Regions from separate parts of the Homo sapiens genome. Here region 1 is linked to region 2. Evidence: fine-mapped expression QTL. Tissue or cell type: caudate. Region 2 holds a variant in brackets; the other region holds the start of a gene. All regions are shown on one strand. Distances are from middle to middle.

Region 1 (8,338 bases), 44 kb before region 2:
GCAAAAAAGTTCAAACATAAGTGTCAGCTCAACAATTTTTCACAAGATGAGCACACCTGTGTAACTAGCGCCTTGCACCCAGATGAAGAAAAAGAACATTATCATACCTACTACTTTAAATGAAATGTTAAAATTAATTTTACTTGAAATTACACTGAAAGAAATACTGAACTTTAGAAAACAGACTCTTTGCTATGGAATGTATTAGTTCCTAAAAGATCTCTTTAAATTGAGAAAAAATATTTTGTAAAGTTTTAAGATGTTTGTGTCTTTAGTTTTTAAATGGCACAATTTGGTTTTAGGCATCATTGATTGACCTGCTGCAATGAAAGTTGGTTAGCTCTGCTATTTTTCATTCCCCCATCTTCCAGTTTTGTTGCTTGCATTATTTTTTCATCTTCAGGGTTTAAAATATTTACGTTATATTCTGCAACCAGTATCCACACTGTTTTACCTTACTTCTGCATTTAAATTGATTCAAACTCACTATGAATCTCTTCATCAGGGTTTCTCCATTCCTGGATTACTCATTTAAATTAATTTTTTTTGTTGTTGGCAGGCTTCTACCAGTAAGTTTCTCAAGAAAAATCCTGAGTTCATGTTTGAGAATGTCTGCTTATTGTTTTTTGCTTGAGTAATATAATACTTTTGAATCATACATTCTTTCTTCCAGCTCCACTGTCTCCTGTAGTGGAATGTTTTTGTAAAGCTGGTTGGATTCTCTCCTCCCCTGAGACCACCATCTTTTTGGTGACTTCTTTTCCTGCTTGGACACTTGAAGGCTTTTTTTCTTCTTCTTTGAAGTTGAAAAATACAACTAGCTTGTTTTTCAACTGTTCTGCATAATTTTATCTGGTATATAGTATGCTTATTAAATCTGCAGATGAATGCATCTTGTCAAGGAAAATTTTCTATGTTACAACTGAATTTCTTCTATTTCACATGTTGAGGTCTCTTTGGAAACATCAGTTAAGCTTATATTGTGTGTGTGTGTGTGTGTGTGTGTGTGTGTGTGTGTGTGTGTATGTGTGTGTGTGTTTTGAGACGGGGTCTCACTCTGTTGCCCAGGCTGGAGTGCAGTGGCATGATCTCGGCTCACTGCAACTTCCGCCCCCTGGGTTCAAGTGATTCTCCTGCCTCAGCCTCCCAAGTAGCTGGGATTACAGGCATGCACAACCATGCCCAGCTAAATTTTTTTGTATTTTTAGTAGAGATGGGGTTTCACTATGTTGGCCAGGCTGGTCTCAAACTCCTGACCTCAAGTGATCTACCCACCTCAGCCTCCCAAAGTGCTGGGATTACAGGTGTGAGCCACTGCGCCTGGCCTATATTATGTTGTCTTTGTCTTCTCTATCCAACATTTCCTCTCCATTTTCTTTCACTCTTTTGTGTCTTTTCATTGGGATTACCTGAACCTTTTGCCCTATGCCAGTAACTGAATTTTCTGGCATGCCTGTTTTGTTCCTTGTTTGGAATTACATTTATTGACTCTCTAGTGATGTGTTTGGTTCAAATTTTGTTTCTTTTGCTCTGCAATATCCTTTTTCAAATCTTCCTAATTGTTTATTATTTTTCTATTCTTATCAAGGTCTTCTATAGCTGGAAGGACTTGTAGGTTGTATTTGCTTCTAGATTTACATCTTTTGTGTACTAACTCTGTCCAGACTGTCTAATATGATGTAGGTGAATTCGCCTTGACTTCATTGTACCTTGTCTAGGTCTAGTTTTTTTATTATTAAGGTTGGAAGAGTAAATTATGGAAGACTTGGGCGTGTAACTGTTGAACCCGTCCATTGGATAATGTATTTATGACACTGTAGCTTCAACAAAATGAAGCTACAACCCATATGTATATGTATATATGTGGATTTGTAATTAGGACTTGAACATATGAAATATTGATAATTATGTGTTTTCTCCCTAATTTGGTGTTATAATTTGTAAACTTTGAATCTAATTTCAGAATTTAAACTAACCAAGCTGACACATTTTAACAGGATAGAGTGAAGAAAGAACATTCTCATTCTTCCTTCTATGCTGATGGTACAAGAAAGTCCTGGAATCCTAAGGATCTAGGAAAAATCAACTTGAGAAGTTTCTATGTGGTAAGAAAAGCTATGATGTGTCTTGCCCTTTTCTCATCTACCATATTGAAATTGAATGTACAGTTCTGTATACGGTTCAGAGTTCTTAAAGATGTAGAAATGATGAGAACATAACAAAAGGTATTCTTTAGTATTCTCAACTTTCCCTGTGCTCTACTTCTTCCAAACGCAAGGCTAAAGACGCTTTAAAAAATGAGATTGTGACAAAATGCTAACTACGACATATTCAGACATTCCAAAACCTGAAAGTGGATCTGAAGCCAGCAGATTCACTACTCACTGTTCTTAGGTTTTGGCATTTTTCTGTCTACCTTCTCTCAACTAAACCTTCATGACGGTTTTTCCTGTAAGGACAATTACAATAAGATACACTCCCTTCCCCATCTTAACTCAGATTATTATGATGCTATTTCTGCATTTTTGTATCATGTGATGGTGGTTTCTTTGTGGTATATGACAAAAATGCCCTTCTTCTTGACTCCACAGGAAGAAAACTGGCTATTAGCTTGGGACTTCAGCAAGGCACTTAGCAAGGTCTCTCATAATATCCTGTGGTCAAGAAGAAAAATATAGGCTGGATGACTGTACAATTAACATGATTCATAGCTGGCTGGAACAACTTATGCCAAAAAGTGCCAATTAATGGACGGATATCAAACTGAAGGAGCTCTCCAGATGTTCTACAGCAATTTGCCTCTTGCCCAGTGGTGCCTGGTACCTATTATCAATAACTTGGATAAATATATAGAATAGTTATCAAATATATGGGTAAGATCCAAGTGCATTACAGCACAGAATCAGGACCCAAAATAATAAAACAGGCTGAACTAATGGGCCAAATCCAATGAGATAAAGTTTAAGTAGGATAATATAAAGTTCTGTACTTTGGTCCAAAAAATCCCCACTACTCAAGTATAGGGTACACAAAATTTTGTTATATAGATGGCAGCATATAGATGTAGCTGTTAAAATAAGTCCATTAAATGTTAGGCAGCATTATAAGCAGTAGCTATCTATTGAGTAGTAGAAAGAACATTGGATTTGGCATTAGAAAACTGGGTCAAATCCCAGTTCTGACAGTTTGGCCCTTAAACTCTTTGATCCTTGCTTTCTTCTCAGGGTGGTTGTGAAGTTAAAATGAGTTAACATGTCTTTTGAGTTAACAAGTCTAATTTCCAAGCACTTGTGCTCAATAAATATGACCTAGAAAAATTACCATTCACAATAATATAAGTGGCTGTGCCACTCCATTTTGTCCTAGAAAAGATGGTACTTGGAATGAGAGGGGCCACACTCAAAAGCAAACCAGAGCTACTTCTAAAGTTAGTGACTAGGATGGATGAGCGACTCAAAAGAGAACATGAAGAATGGCTACAGGAACTGGGGATAACTGACTTGAAGAACAGTAGACTTAAGGAGACCATATCTACCTTCAAACATCTGATGGTGTGCTTCATGGCCTTCTGTAGAGCTCCAAAAGATAGAAGAACACTGGAGAACGGAAAATAGAAGAATGTAGGCAAGGGCGACCACTTGGTGGGGATGTTGTGAGCGATTTCAGCACAAGTGGATGGTTGGACTACATGGCCTTTAACACGAGAGTCTGACTGTCATATTTCTAGGACATTTTTCATGAAATGGATCCTTCTAAGTCTGTCTCAAAATAATCCAGGATCTCTGCTATCTTGGGTTGGGCTGGCTTCTTGCCTTAAAATATCATCTTTCTTCCAGTTCTAGGCCAGATCTCTTCTTTATCCAGTCTGACTTTCTTGCACCAGTTTACTCTTGCTGACTACTTTGTTCAGGAATTTCTGGTCACTTTTAAAATGTCATTCCCCCCCCCCAAAAAAAAACTATCCAAGGGACACAGTACAAGGATAATTTGTGGACATTTTTGGGGAGATGAGCCAGCAAAGCATGCTTTCCAGGTTGCTTAATTAAAAGAGTGGGAATTAAGAACCAGAATTTAAGAGTTCCGGCAGGGCGCTGGTGGCTTACGCCTGTAATCCCAGCACTTTGGGAGGCCGAGGCGGGCGGATCAAGAGGTCAAGAGATCGAGACCATCCTGGCCAACATGGTGAAACCCCGTCTCTACTAAAAATATAAAAATTAGCTGGGCGTGGTGGTGCGCGCCTGTAGTCCAAGCTACTGGAGAGGCTGAGGCAGGAGAATCACTTGAACCCGGGAGGCAGAGGTTGAAGTGAGCCGAGATTGCTCCACTGCACTCCAGCCTGGCGACAGTGCGAGACTCCGTCTCAAAAAAAAACAAAACAAAAAAAAAGAGATCCAGAATTCCAGAATTGCAACTGTGAACCAAGAAGTGGGGATGGGTACCTCAGACAAGGCTTTTACCGGAAATTTAGCATATAGGATAGAAAGCAGAGACCAAAGACCTCTTGCTTTGAGGCTGTTGGCGTGCTACAAGGACTCGAAAGTTATTTGTTCAACGGATGACTTCTGTTTTCTGGAGGCAAACTGAATTCCGGGCAGGTGGCTCAGCACCTCCAGCCTGTTCCAGATCGGGACAGGGAAGGTGCCTGGGGCAATCAGTGAGGTTTCCAACCTTCCTTAGGCCTGGGCCAGCCCGCTCCCCTCCCATGTGACCCCAGGCAACCATTTTAATTTTTTTACAGCCAAGCGTAGTGGAGAACTGGCTGCGCGCCGGTTGCCAGGGACGCGGCAGCCAGCTTGGCGGGGCTGGGGTGAAAGAGGACGCTGCGTGGGGGAGGGCTCCGCGGCTTCTGACTGGCTGGAGCATCAGGATTCATTTGCATAATATTTTCTGACGGCTTCTGATTGGCTGAAGCCAGAGGGGCGGTGGTGGGGTGATTCCAAGGGCCCAGAGCTCTGGCCGGCGGACCTTTTCCTTCTGGAGTTTCCCCGGCGGGTGTGAGTTGTTGCGGGGTCTGGGGGAGCTGGGAGGCCCGGTTTGGGAAGTTTTGCAGGCAGGTGCATGAGCCATCTTTCTCTGAAAGTGTTTAAGAAATGTTCAAGAACAGCGGCCAGAGTCAAGAAACTGGGGGATGAAGGGTTATCTCGAGACTAGACGGAAGGAAACGTATCAGGGGAGGGGTGGAGGCCAGAAGGAAGGAGTTAGGTAGGGGCCCTCTCCCAAGCTGGCGTTTTTGCTGGGTGGAATCCTTTTGCTAGATCCCTTGGATTTCCGTTTTCCGTGTGTTATCACACTGTTGGAACTGGGAAGAAGAGAAAAAGAGGCAAGATTTTGGCATTTAGTAAGTTAAGTCTGAATACCGAGTTTTCATCCGGGTGCATACGTACTTAAAATACCAAATGGGTCCAGGAAGGGGGACAAAGTACGCTTTAATTTATGAGAAGATCAGCTACTAGAAACTGTATATCTGTTTTTCTCGAGTTTTCTTCTTGCAGTGCTCTTTCAATCTCATTGGACATATTTTATATTATTTTCCTGCTTAAGCACTGGGGGTTGGGTGGAAGGATCTGTGGCTCATCATAGGCAATTTCCACACTTTTAAGGTTTCTGACTCTTCACATAAACACCTCTCACTATGATGAGGTCCTGTATCAAGTACAATTAATCTTTGTACTTTACAATTTACATAGTGATTTTTATTTACATTATCATATTTAAACTTAATCAAAGTCCTTGGCACGGCCCATGGAACAAGCTCCATTTTTTTGATAAAGAAACTGAGGCTAGAAAAGTTTCTATGTGTGCAGAGAAGGAAGGTGAAATTATTTTAATGCTTCAAAGTTATATAATGCTTCCTGCCTCCCTGTATTTTTCTTTCCATTGATCTTCCTTCAAAACCCTGATAGGTCTATCCCAGTTTTGCAAGTAAGAAAACATGGGCTGTGATGTAGAGCTAATACGTTTTGGGGTAGTGGGTCCTCAGACTTAGGTCTGTCTCCAAGGGTCACTGACTTTGTTTTGTTTTGTTTGTTTTTTGTCAACAGATTAGTCCTTGTGGCACCAAGTCAGAATTTCATTCAAAAGACAATTAGGAAGATGGTTTTCTATGGAAAATATTTAAGTGTAGGTCTTAATGTGAAAGAAAGAGGGAGAGAAAGAAACCCCTTTATTATGTTCTCCCTTCCTTAGGCATTTTTTGTCCCGTGGGAAAAAACTGTACTAGGGACAGAGACCTCTGTTAAGTTTTAGAGAAAAGGGATCTTTTTTTTTTTTATTTGAGACAGAGTCTTGCTCTGTCGCCCAGGCTGGAGTGCAGTGGCACGATCTCGGCTCACTGCAACTCCGCCTCCTGGGTTCAAGCAATTCTCCTGCTTCATCCTCCCGAGTAGCTGGGATTACAGGCGCTGGCCACCACGCCCGGCTAATTTTTGTATTTTTAGTAGAGACCGGGTTTCACCATGTTGGCCAGGCTAGTCTGGAACCCCTGACTTTGTGATCCGCCCGCCTCGGCCTCCCAAAGTGCTGGGATTACAGGCGTGAGCCACCGTTTCAGGCCGAGAAAAGGGATTTAAAATGAGAAGCTTGAATCTTATTGAACATAATTGTAGGACTGCCAGAGAGGACTGGTGGATGAGGAATATGGCAAGGGACATGAGATGGGAAAAATTAAATAGGCTGTGGTTTGGAAGTCTCAAAGTGAAATTCAAGGTGCAAGGCTCTTAAAAGTTAAATCCAGCGATTCGGTACATAGCTTAGGCCCTATTAAATGACCCAGTGCTTTAAGAACTATCTTTTGAAAGGAACACTTCACACAAGCACCCTCAAAAATAATTAGACACCTCCCCATTTCTCTGTTAAATGGTGAAAGACACCCAAGACTAGACCTAACTACTGTCACCCTCTCCTGGCCTCTTGGCAGCCAAAAGGCCACATGGCCCAGGCTCTCCAGCATCACTGTGTAGCCGACTTGGACAAAAATGGACTTCTCCCCATTGCCACTTGCAGATCTCTTCAAAGAATCAGCAGATCTGATAGTGTGCCCCTCTTCATCCCCGGCAACCACTGTTAAAGGAAAGATTGGGAAAGATCCCACCCCGCCAGGAGGGAGGCAAAAGCCTCTGACGCTCCCCTCCCCCCATAGCTGACCAAGGCCAGGGCCACTGCGGGAGCACCGCGCGTCCACGTGCACCCAGCATGCCCGGTCACCCTTTATTACGTAAGAGTCCCAGGATGGAGTTGTACCTGCTGCCGGCCCCTCTTCCCCGACGGCTAATAATAAACCCGGGTTCCTGTTTCCCGGCCGCGGCCACTCCAGATTCGGGGCTGAGGGGCTCACTCTGCAACCAAGGCACGTGCATTCTGGTCATCCCACGCGGGGAGCGCGCGCAAGGCCCGCCCAGCCCCCACATGCCAGCCCCACCCTCCAGTCGGTCCGGACGCCGACGCCTTTTTGACCCTCGCTGTGCCCGGCCCTCCTCATCTGGCCTGCCCAGGGCTTGGTGCTGGCGGGGTCCAGCTGCTCCAATCCCTCCTCCTCTGCTCTGCCCTGCCCTGCCCTGGCCTGCCCCGGCGCCCTCCCTCAGCCCGGGTATCAGGCGAGAGGCGGAGCTGGCCCGGCGCGCCCCGCCCCCGCTGTAGAAAGGGCCGGGCGAGTGTTACTCGCGGTCATCCCGGCCTGGGCCTTTTATCTCGGTGCTGCCGGGGGAGGCGGGAGGAGGAGACACCAGGGGTGGCCCTGAGCGCCGGCGACACCTTTCCTGGACTATAAATTGAGCACCTGGGATGGGTAGGGGGCCAACGCAGTCACCGCCGTCCGCAGTCACAGTCCAGCCACTGACCGCAGCAGCGCCCTTGCGTAGCAGCCGCTTGCAGCGAGAACACTGAATTGCCAACGAGCAGGAGAGTCTCAAGGCGCAAGAGGAGGTGGGTGCCCACGCCCCATCGCTGCCCCGGCCAGCTTGGTTGCTTGAGCTCAGGCTTTTCGGAGGGAGAAGTTGTGGTGGTGGGGGGACACCCTTCTCCCCGCGGCCGTAGGTGGGCGAGGAGGTGGGACTGCCCAGCCGCGGGGAGCCACCCAGGCGCCGTCCCGGACGAGCTGTAGCCAGAGAAGGGGGTGCGCGCGGGCAAGGGCGCCAGGCCCCCTAGCAGGGTGAATAATCTAATCTGTTCTTTCGTCTCCGTGTATCAAACAGGCCAGGGCTCGACCCACAGAGCACCCTCAGCCATCGCGAGTTTCCGGGCGCCAAAGCCAGGAGAAGCCGCCCATCCCGCAGGGCCGGTCTGCCAGCGAGACGAGAGTTGGCGAGGGCGGAGGAGTGCCGGGAATCCCGCCACACCGGCT
Region 2 (8,338 bases):
AATGTTGCTCTCCAAGAAATATGTTAAAATTAGTCACTAAAATCTCATAGCAGAGACTCAGGCACTAAGACTCACTTGTAAACATAACGCAACCAAAGTTTCTTGTTTTAAAAAATCTAAAGATACTTGCAGAAATGTTATAGATTTTATTAAAAATTATTATCCTCTGAAGTGATCTAACAAATGTTTTAACATTTTGACAATAGAATATTATATATTTTGATATATGTGTCTCAATAGGCTTACCTCTATGTATGCTGTACTAAAGGAAATTGCATTCAATATCAGTTGCATGGAAGAGCAATTTTCCTGTTGATTGTACTTCTATTTATTTATCTATTTAATAATTAGATCTCAGATCTAATTATTAATTTAAGGGTACATCACTCAGTGTTAGTAAGTAAAAGTGTCTGTTGAGTCTAGTTAATTTTATAACAGTTATGGGGCACCAAATTAAATATGAAATGCAAATATATACAAAATGCAAATACATGAACAAACTGATAAAATTGCTAATTGCTCTGCCTTTTAAAAAAAAGCTTCTGTGTGGCAAATGTACCTAACAAAATATTGCTACTAGTTATAAAATTTCTTTGTTCCAAGCTTGATGCAAACAGATTAGGGATATAATCTGTCACATATACACATGAAAAGGTGGATTCTTGGAGACAATGGCTGTGAGGAGTATTTTCATTAGCTTGTCTCTGTGGTATTGTATTTGTGTATAATTGAAAAGTGAACTACTTTCATTTCCTTTTTAAAAACAGAGTCCTGAGACTGACAGGATAATGGAATGGCCAGTGGAATAGCATGATTTAAACCACTATTTGTTAGTCATGATGTCTTTGTGGACAACTTAGAAAAGTAACATCCTAATAATTCTACTATTGTGAAGTTTCATGGCTACTTGAACATTTTTAAAAAATTAGATTCTTGTCAGCTTAGGATGAGGTTTTTGGTAGTGGGTTCCAGACCTCTAACTTTGGCCTTTTCTTTTTTTACTTTCTTCAACTCTTTGAATGAAGACCCCAAAGACTCATGAATCAAATTTAGAAATGAACTAAAGCTGAAAGAGATTGTTAGACTGGGAGTGTTGGAAAATAAGTCAGAGAACAAAATAAATATTCAAAGATAATGTCATAAATTGGAGTTAGGAAACAAAAGCAGCAAAATTAAACCTAACAGAGATAAGTGCGAACTTCTCATTAAGGGTTCATGATTTAATCACCTGAGTGTAAGTTGGAAGGAGATCTCAGGACTTCTTATTAAAATGACCTAGGGGATTTAATTGGTTCCAACTTTAATACAAACCAGTAAGTCTACAAAGCTATCCAAAAGCTATGATTCCCTTGGCTATAAGTTACTCTAGGAAGAAGAGCCTGTTTTTCCTTCTCCCTTCAATCTATATCCGAGGAGGAGTATTTTTTTGGATTCAAATCTGGGACATGATTATGCTATGTTTGCCAGTGGACACAGTCACTGTGTATTAACAGGTCAGCACTTGGGTGTGACTATTTTGCTGTTCTTGGAAATACTACTGAAGTGGAAAAGGTCAGGGCCTACTTTCTATTAGAGACTCTCTTCCTCTCTCTTCTTTATCTGCCATCCATATGCCAGAAATGATAAGCCAATTCAGGGCTTACTCTCCTGGAGTATATCCAACAAACTAACTTTTCTTTTTTCTTGACGTGGGACTGGAGTATGGTTAGATCTAAAATTTGGGGGCAGGTAAAAACATTCACAGGCCTCACTCACAGCCTGCTTTGGGCTGAAGGCATTTACGCTAAGTAGCCTAGGAAAAAGGTTATGCTACACGTGGCCCAGCCCAAATATTACAATATCTCTTTTTGGAAGCTTGGGATCTAAATTCAGAAATCAATAAGGATTTGTTTCATTTTTCCTGTTTCATTATTTTTGTGTGTGTGTTTGTGTCTCTTTCATGAACCTCTCCCTCTCAAGGGAGGATGGCAGTGTCTAGAGTGGGCGATACATATTCCTGTATTCTTGGGACATTTTACCATTCAGAAGCACAGCACCCTATCCTTTACTACTTCTAATAGCTGGATTAAGAGGACAATATAAGAGTTAACATCCCTTTATACTCCAGACATATGTTTTTGACTCTATCGTACATCCCTATTTGGGGGTCCCATATGCACCTCAAAGGTTTATTTTCAAAATTTAACCTCTTTGTAACCTCTTCCCCTGACTCTCCACCCCTACTACTCACTTACAAATGTGCTTCTGCTGCTGTTTGAGTATTCTCTGTTCATTAAAGACATCATCATATTCCTTGTTTCTTGGCTCTTTTGACCCTCCATATTTAGTTTGACACCGATTCTGTCATCAATTAAAAAAAAGGTCTTTGGAACATATCTACTCCTGTCTTCACATAGTTTGCCATCACTATATATCACTTGGATTATTTTCAGTCATGGCCTATATTTCCATTCCTGCTACAATGCTTAGCACATAGTTTGTGACTGACTATGGAAAATATAGCTTTTATGTCTGCCTTCAAATGTTTAATGGAACATGATGTTTGAGAAGCAATAAATTTATTTTTTGGCTGCTTCAGATATCAAGGAGGCCAATTTTCATTAATGTGGGATAGAACTTAAGACAGATTGACTCCAACTATGGACTAAACCATTTCATAAATCTTTGAGCTCTTTATCATTGGAACTATTCAAGGAGAGACTGGATAGACATCAGGGAGAAGTGCTGTCAAAAGGATGCTGGCTTTAGTAAAATGTCAGACAATATGACTTTTAGGGTCTCTTTCCATCACAAGATTTGATGATTTATATATTAATTTTCAGGGATTAATTGAAATTAATTAATTCAATTCTGTTCTGACTGGTAGAATTAGAGATGTGTAATTTTTTCTTATTTCTTTCCAAAATTTTTAAGTTTTCCAAATAGAAGTGTATTACTCTCATAATCAGAAAATTTTCATCTTGAGTAAACTCAAAGACTTTGCTTTTTAAAAGAACATTTTGATCTCCCCTTTGAATATGAGCATAACCTTTCATTATATGTATCAAAGAAACATTTTTGTTATTGTGTATATGCCAACTGTTAGTTTGATGTAGGTTTGGCTCCATATAATAGAAAAGAAAACATAACAGTAGCTTAAACAAGCTAGAATCCTAGTTCTCTGTTTTTAAGTAAAAGAAGTTTGGATGTAGGTAGCCAGAAGTGGTATGGTGACTTCACCATGTCAGGCACCAACACTCCTTTATCTTGTTCAGCTGTATGTGACTTCAATTCCTAAGGTCACCTCATGGTCCAAAACAGCCGCTGAATATTAGCATTACATATGTGTTCTGAACAGCAGGAAAGAGGAAGGAGAAGATGGACCTGCCTCCTTCATTTTAAAGTTCTTCCCAGAAATACCAGACAACACTTTTTTATAAATTTCACTGGTGAGAATTTGGCCATAAGGTCATATCTAGCTGCAAGGAATTCTGCGGGGAAAATCAGGGCTTCGTTTCCAATGAGGAAGAAGGGAATGGTTATTGGGAAGCTAATAGCTGTCTCTGTTACACCTGTTGACTAAGGGTAAGCATAATACAGAATCATTAAGGAAATGTCACTGGCCACAGCTTCTTTGCTAATAGTTTTAGGAACTTCCTATTGGGCTCCATTTATTTAGATCAGTCAACAATTATTTGCTAAAAACCTGCTATTTGCATCATTTTTTTTCTTTTGTAGAATGGATTTGTACCTTCCCAATGGGGTTTTAGTGAGCATTAAATGAGATAATAATGTAGAACGCTTGGAAGAGCATCTGATATATATTAAGCACTCAATACATGTCAGTCATTACTCTGATTAATATTACTATTTGTGAAAGAATAAAAGTGAGATTGAAAACATAGTTCCTGCCTTAGGTTCCTTCTCTTCTGGTGAAGACAAGATACATAGATGTGAAGTAACTTCAGAATAAGTGTGCAATTAAAATCCAGATGTTATGGAGCAAAGTATATATTTTGTAAACATTTAAAGGCTAAAAAAGTCCCTATAAGGGTGTGTGTGTGTGTGTGTGTGTGTGTGTGTGTGTGAGAGAGAGAGAGAGAGAGAGAGAGAGAAATATCATGGAGTATTTATGAAGACCTAAGGCTTTAGGTTTTATGATATCTTAATTTTTTCTGGTCGCATAATTTGGTTTCATTTCCCAGAGAGGCTAACCACTGGCCTATATCATCTCAGGCTGGTAAGGGTCTTTCAGTTTCTTAAAAGTTTCAAGGCAGAGGCCACAGACTCCCAAATTTTTCTCTTATGTTTATTTGTGATACTGTAAGTATTAGCTTTTTTAGGGCAAAACTCATGAATTAAAGTAAAAAATTTTTTGTAGTTTAAGAATATAGCACCAACTTAAAATTGTATCAATTGAATTAACAACATCACTGGTATGGGAGAGAATGAATCACCTATTAGAACAGATATTGCCTGCTATTTTTTTTTAGAAGTAAAGTCTTTCCTAGCATTGCATTCTATTTTATGCAGTACATTTGCTAAGAGAATTCAAAAGTAGAGATTGGGCCCATTGTCCTTCATTCCAGCAGCACTGAAGGTCCAATTTCATCTTTTGAGGCTCTTAAGGAGCATACCACATAAAAAGGAATGGACTGCTTGCTATTCAGCCATAGCTGGAATAGCAATACCAATCATTATACTGTTATCTATTTGAAAAATGTGGATTTTACTTGGAGATGGTATTTATTGAAGCCTGCAAGAAATCTGCTTTCTGTCTACCTGGCAAGAGCAATTTGAAATGGAAAATTCAAGCTCAGAAATTCAGTTGAAATTTGAACTTCTCTATATTGCCATGGATTTTGGTATGATGATATATGCAAGGGTAGGGGTGAGGGGTGTCCACTGGCTTCTAATCCTGTGCTGTGCTTGTCTCCTGCTGCACAATAGGGCAATCGAAGGGAAACCTTCTCCAGCTTTATTAAAATGGGGAGGGCGTGGGATGCTGGGGCTGATGCACTTAAAATGCGCTCTGAAGCATCATGGAAATTTTGCCGAAGACTTTTTATGTAGCAACAATTCTATTGATAGAGTCAATGAGAGTTTTGTCTGTGCAAAAACTGCAGGATGG[G/A]CCCCCAAGTCACATGCTTTCAAAATTATTCTCCCTTTGTTGGATATCACAAAGAATATTTTCCCATGAAAACAAGATCTTTTGTTTCTCATGAATTCATTCTAATTGTAAAGCGGGCTGATAGGGTTACTGCATGTTCTTTTCTCGCACTGGCAGGTGGCCTGAGGGAGCTGGTGAAATGGGCTCAGTCATCTATTAAGTTTTTTCTGGTCTTAGTGTCATTTACTTATCATCTAAAACCGTAGTCCTTGATGTTCATCTCAAAAGGAGATAACAGTGATGTCACAGATACTGATTTGTTCCTATTTGGCTTTAAGAGATAGCAGGCAAAATATCCCTGCCTTTCTGGTTTCCTTACCTTTTTGCAAATGTGTATGACTAACAAAGAGAAACACATAGGAAATATAGACAGGTAGGGAAAGTTGAGACAAGTTACAGCATCAATTTTCAAAAGAACTTGTTAAATACTTCATTGCATGTGCTAGGTTCTGTGCAGAAAATAAAATAGGTACAATTTCCTCTTTATGAGGACTTACAATTTACCAGCCACTGTGCTGTGGTGAAAACATTTAGCAGCAATTTGGCAAGCATTTGCATAAATGCTCTGTAGAAGACCTGTGCTAAATACTGAGGATTTAAGACAGGTGAGGCCTAGGCTTGTCCCTCAAGAAACTCATGCAGAAATGCTATGTAATGATGTGGCAGTGCTGCAGCAAAAAAAAAATGAAATTAAAAGTGCAATAGGAACCAGATGAAAGACAATTCAGTACGTAAACATGAAAGACTGCAGCCAAAGCCCACAATATGTTAATGAAGGATAGGAAATGTATTTTTAAAAATTTCCTGTATGACCTATTGTGGAAAGCTTTGGCCAGATCTTTTGCACGGAAATCTTTAGTAAGTCCAATGATACAGTAACAAGTGAGAGGGTGCAGATTGTGCTGAGTTACAGGATGGAGGCTGGGGCTGTGAACCTCTCTAAATAGTAATTGTAATCTGTGGACTGTGCCAGTTGTGCATGCACACACAACCACATGATCACCAAACTTCTAGAGAGCATCTGTATGGAGCAGAGGAAGGTGAGATGAAGGAGCTTCATTCACTTTTTTTGTATCTTTGATCTTGAGGACATCTATTGTACTTTTTGTTTGCTGGCTCCCCATCTAATCTTGGAAACTGGACTGACCTTTGAGGTCTAGCATAGCTCATCTGTGGTGGGTTTTGGGGACAAGGTAGGCAAGATATGGTTGGAGGCAGAGATGACTAGAGAATATCGGACACGGACAAAACATGGTGTCACCTTTAGATCAAGAAAGGAGGACTTTGTGGTGAGTAGGATGTGAGTTGTTTCCTTAATTGGATGAGGGTAGTAGATTTCCCCCCTTTTTGGTTGAAGTAAGGAAGAAAACCCTGGTTAACAGGGATGAATGGGGGAAAGGAGATGTTCTTGGCCCAAGCATAGGGATCAGGTGCAGCATAGGCCTAAGGACAATGGAAGCATTTGGGCATCATTGAGCCTGGTTTGAGTGCAGGTTATTCAAGGGCAGGGATGCACCATTGTGAAGGGAGGTGGAAAGTGCTGATCTGGGACCTGATACAATGGTATGATGACCATAGTCTTACATTAGAAACAAAGGACACATGATTCGATGAGGGACTGTATCTGAAGATGAATAGGAAAGAGACAGGCAACACAGGCAGGGCATGTGATATTAGTAATCACAGCGATAAAATAACCAGAGAGTGACTCTATTAAAAATGGGGCTTCTAGTGAAGTCTAGATTGTAGGGGGAGAAAAACTATTGTTTTATATCAATCAAGCAACATCTACAGACGTTCAAGCTCTCTGGATTGCATTCGCTGCTTATTATACTGCTTTATCAGGTTTCCAAAGGTCCTGGTTGCACATTAACCTAGAAATACACAAAAGCCAAATTCGGTAGCTGGTATGGTGAAAAGAAGATTTTCTTTTTCATGTGTTGTCTTGAAGAGAGTCTGAAGGGGCTCAAATGATTCTCACATGCAGTCCTACAGTATAAAGGGACTTCCTGATCTTTAAGCATTTTCCTCCCTTATTCCTATCCCCTCTTTTTGTCTGACCCTAACTCTAAACATCTTTAAGAAAAGCACTTAGAAAAATATAAAATAAAAGCAGCTGGGTGGGTGGAGGTGGAGTGTGCTTTGGTTGTTCTTTGTCAAAGCTGCAGGCATTAAGTGAGCCAAGGCCTCACAGAAAGAGCTCTCTCTTGCTCAAGTGTCTGTGGATTTTGCTCTGCACCATTTCTTTGAAAATCTCCTTGACATAACCCTGATGTTTCTTCTTTCTCTTGCCTGACTGCAGCTGTACCTGACTCTTATTTTGTCACTTGCCAGCGGCAGGAGCTAGCAGATACATTTTACTAATTTCAGCTGTTTGGATTAGTATCACCATAAGTGGATTAATATGGATTTCATTAAAGAACCCTAAAGACTCAATCAAGGCCAAAAACTTCAGTCGGCCAAATCTACAATTCCTTATGCAACCCTCACTGATAACAAGGCTGCACCCTCCATTGCATAACCACCAAATAGACAAAGGATGGCAGACTTTTCATAAATACATATATCTAGCAATGGCCAGCACAGTGGTCCTCAATGTTCAACTGACTGGAGTGCCAAAAGTAAGAAAATGCTAGAAAAAAAAAATCTATTGATGAGAATATGTCAAAGGGACACAGGGGCTTACTGAAAAAGCTCCCAGTGGCTAAAGCTGGAAAAATTTGAGCAACAACATGAAGTAATATCGATTTAAAACCAAAAGTATGATATAAAAAAAAAAGAGAAAAAAGAGAAAATAAATAAATAAATAAAACCAAAAGTATAAAATAAATATCCACGAGTCATACTGATATAAATAAGTACTTGAATACATAAATAAATGGGAGAGAAAGACACAAGTCTCCTGTGCAGATAAATTCCAAATAATTTATGTAGGTTCTCTGCCTTCAAGGGATGGGATATAACTTCCCACTCCTGATGTGTTGGCTACAGGGACTTTCTTTCAAGCATACAATATAGAAGAGCTGGGGGAAGAGTAACTTTACAGTGGGGAAACCTGATAAATGCTATCTCAGCCAGGTGATCAAGGGTCAGCATCAACAGTGGTCAGTCATGTTGATGGTGTGTACCCTTGAAGTGATGTGACGAAAATGGCACTTCACTTAGGTGGTCTTTCTTCTAAAAACACAC

Direction of the effects. Alleles are on the strand shown, and positions count from the first base shown. SD is a standard deviation of normalised expression in the study named.
For the expression in caudate of the gene that starts at base 4,966 in region 1, allele A in region 2 goes with a lower level than allele G (moderate effect, 0.56 SD a copy in GTEx).

Evidence for each region. PIP is the estimated chance that this variant, and not a neighbour inherited with it, causes the effect.
Region 1: MID1IP1 starts here. The variant in region 2 is fine-mapped to the expression of MID1IP1 in caudate (GTEx, PIP above 0.99). The same link has a PIP of 0.9 or more in hypothalamus.

What each region holds. Positions count from the first base shown.
Region 1 is chrX:38,796,494-38,804,831 of GRCh38, forward strand. It overlaps MID1IP1 (MID1 interacting protein 1), which reads left to right and starts at 4,966. Exons shown (of 3, transcript NM_021242.6): 1 at 4,966-4,994; 2 at 6,042-7,920; 3 at 8,190-8,338. MID1IP1-AS1 (MID1IP1 antisense RNA 1) reads right to left here and starts at 7,390. Exons shown (of 2, transcript NR_046706.1): 1 at 7,240-7,390; 2 at 4,755-5,299. RefSeq lists enhancers at 4,663-4,957, 4,987-5,066, 5,176-5,683, 6,017-6,858, 6,859-7,700 and a silencer at 7,503-7,722.
Region 2 is chrX:38,840,402-38,848,739 of GRCh38, forward strand. No RefSeq gene overlaps it. Among named protein-coding and RNA genes, the nearest start is that of MID1IP1-AS1, 41 kb to the left of the region's middle. The variant G/A (reference allele first, on the strand shown) is at 5,111.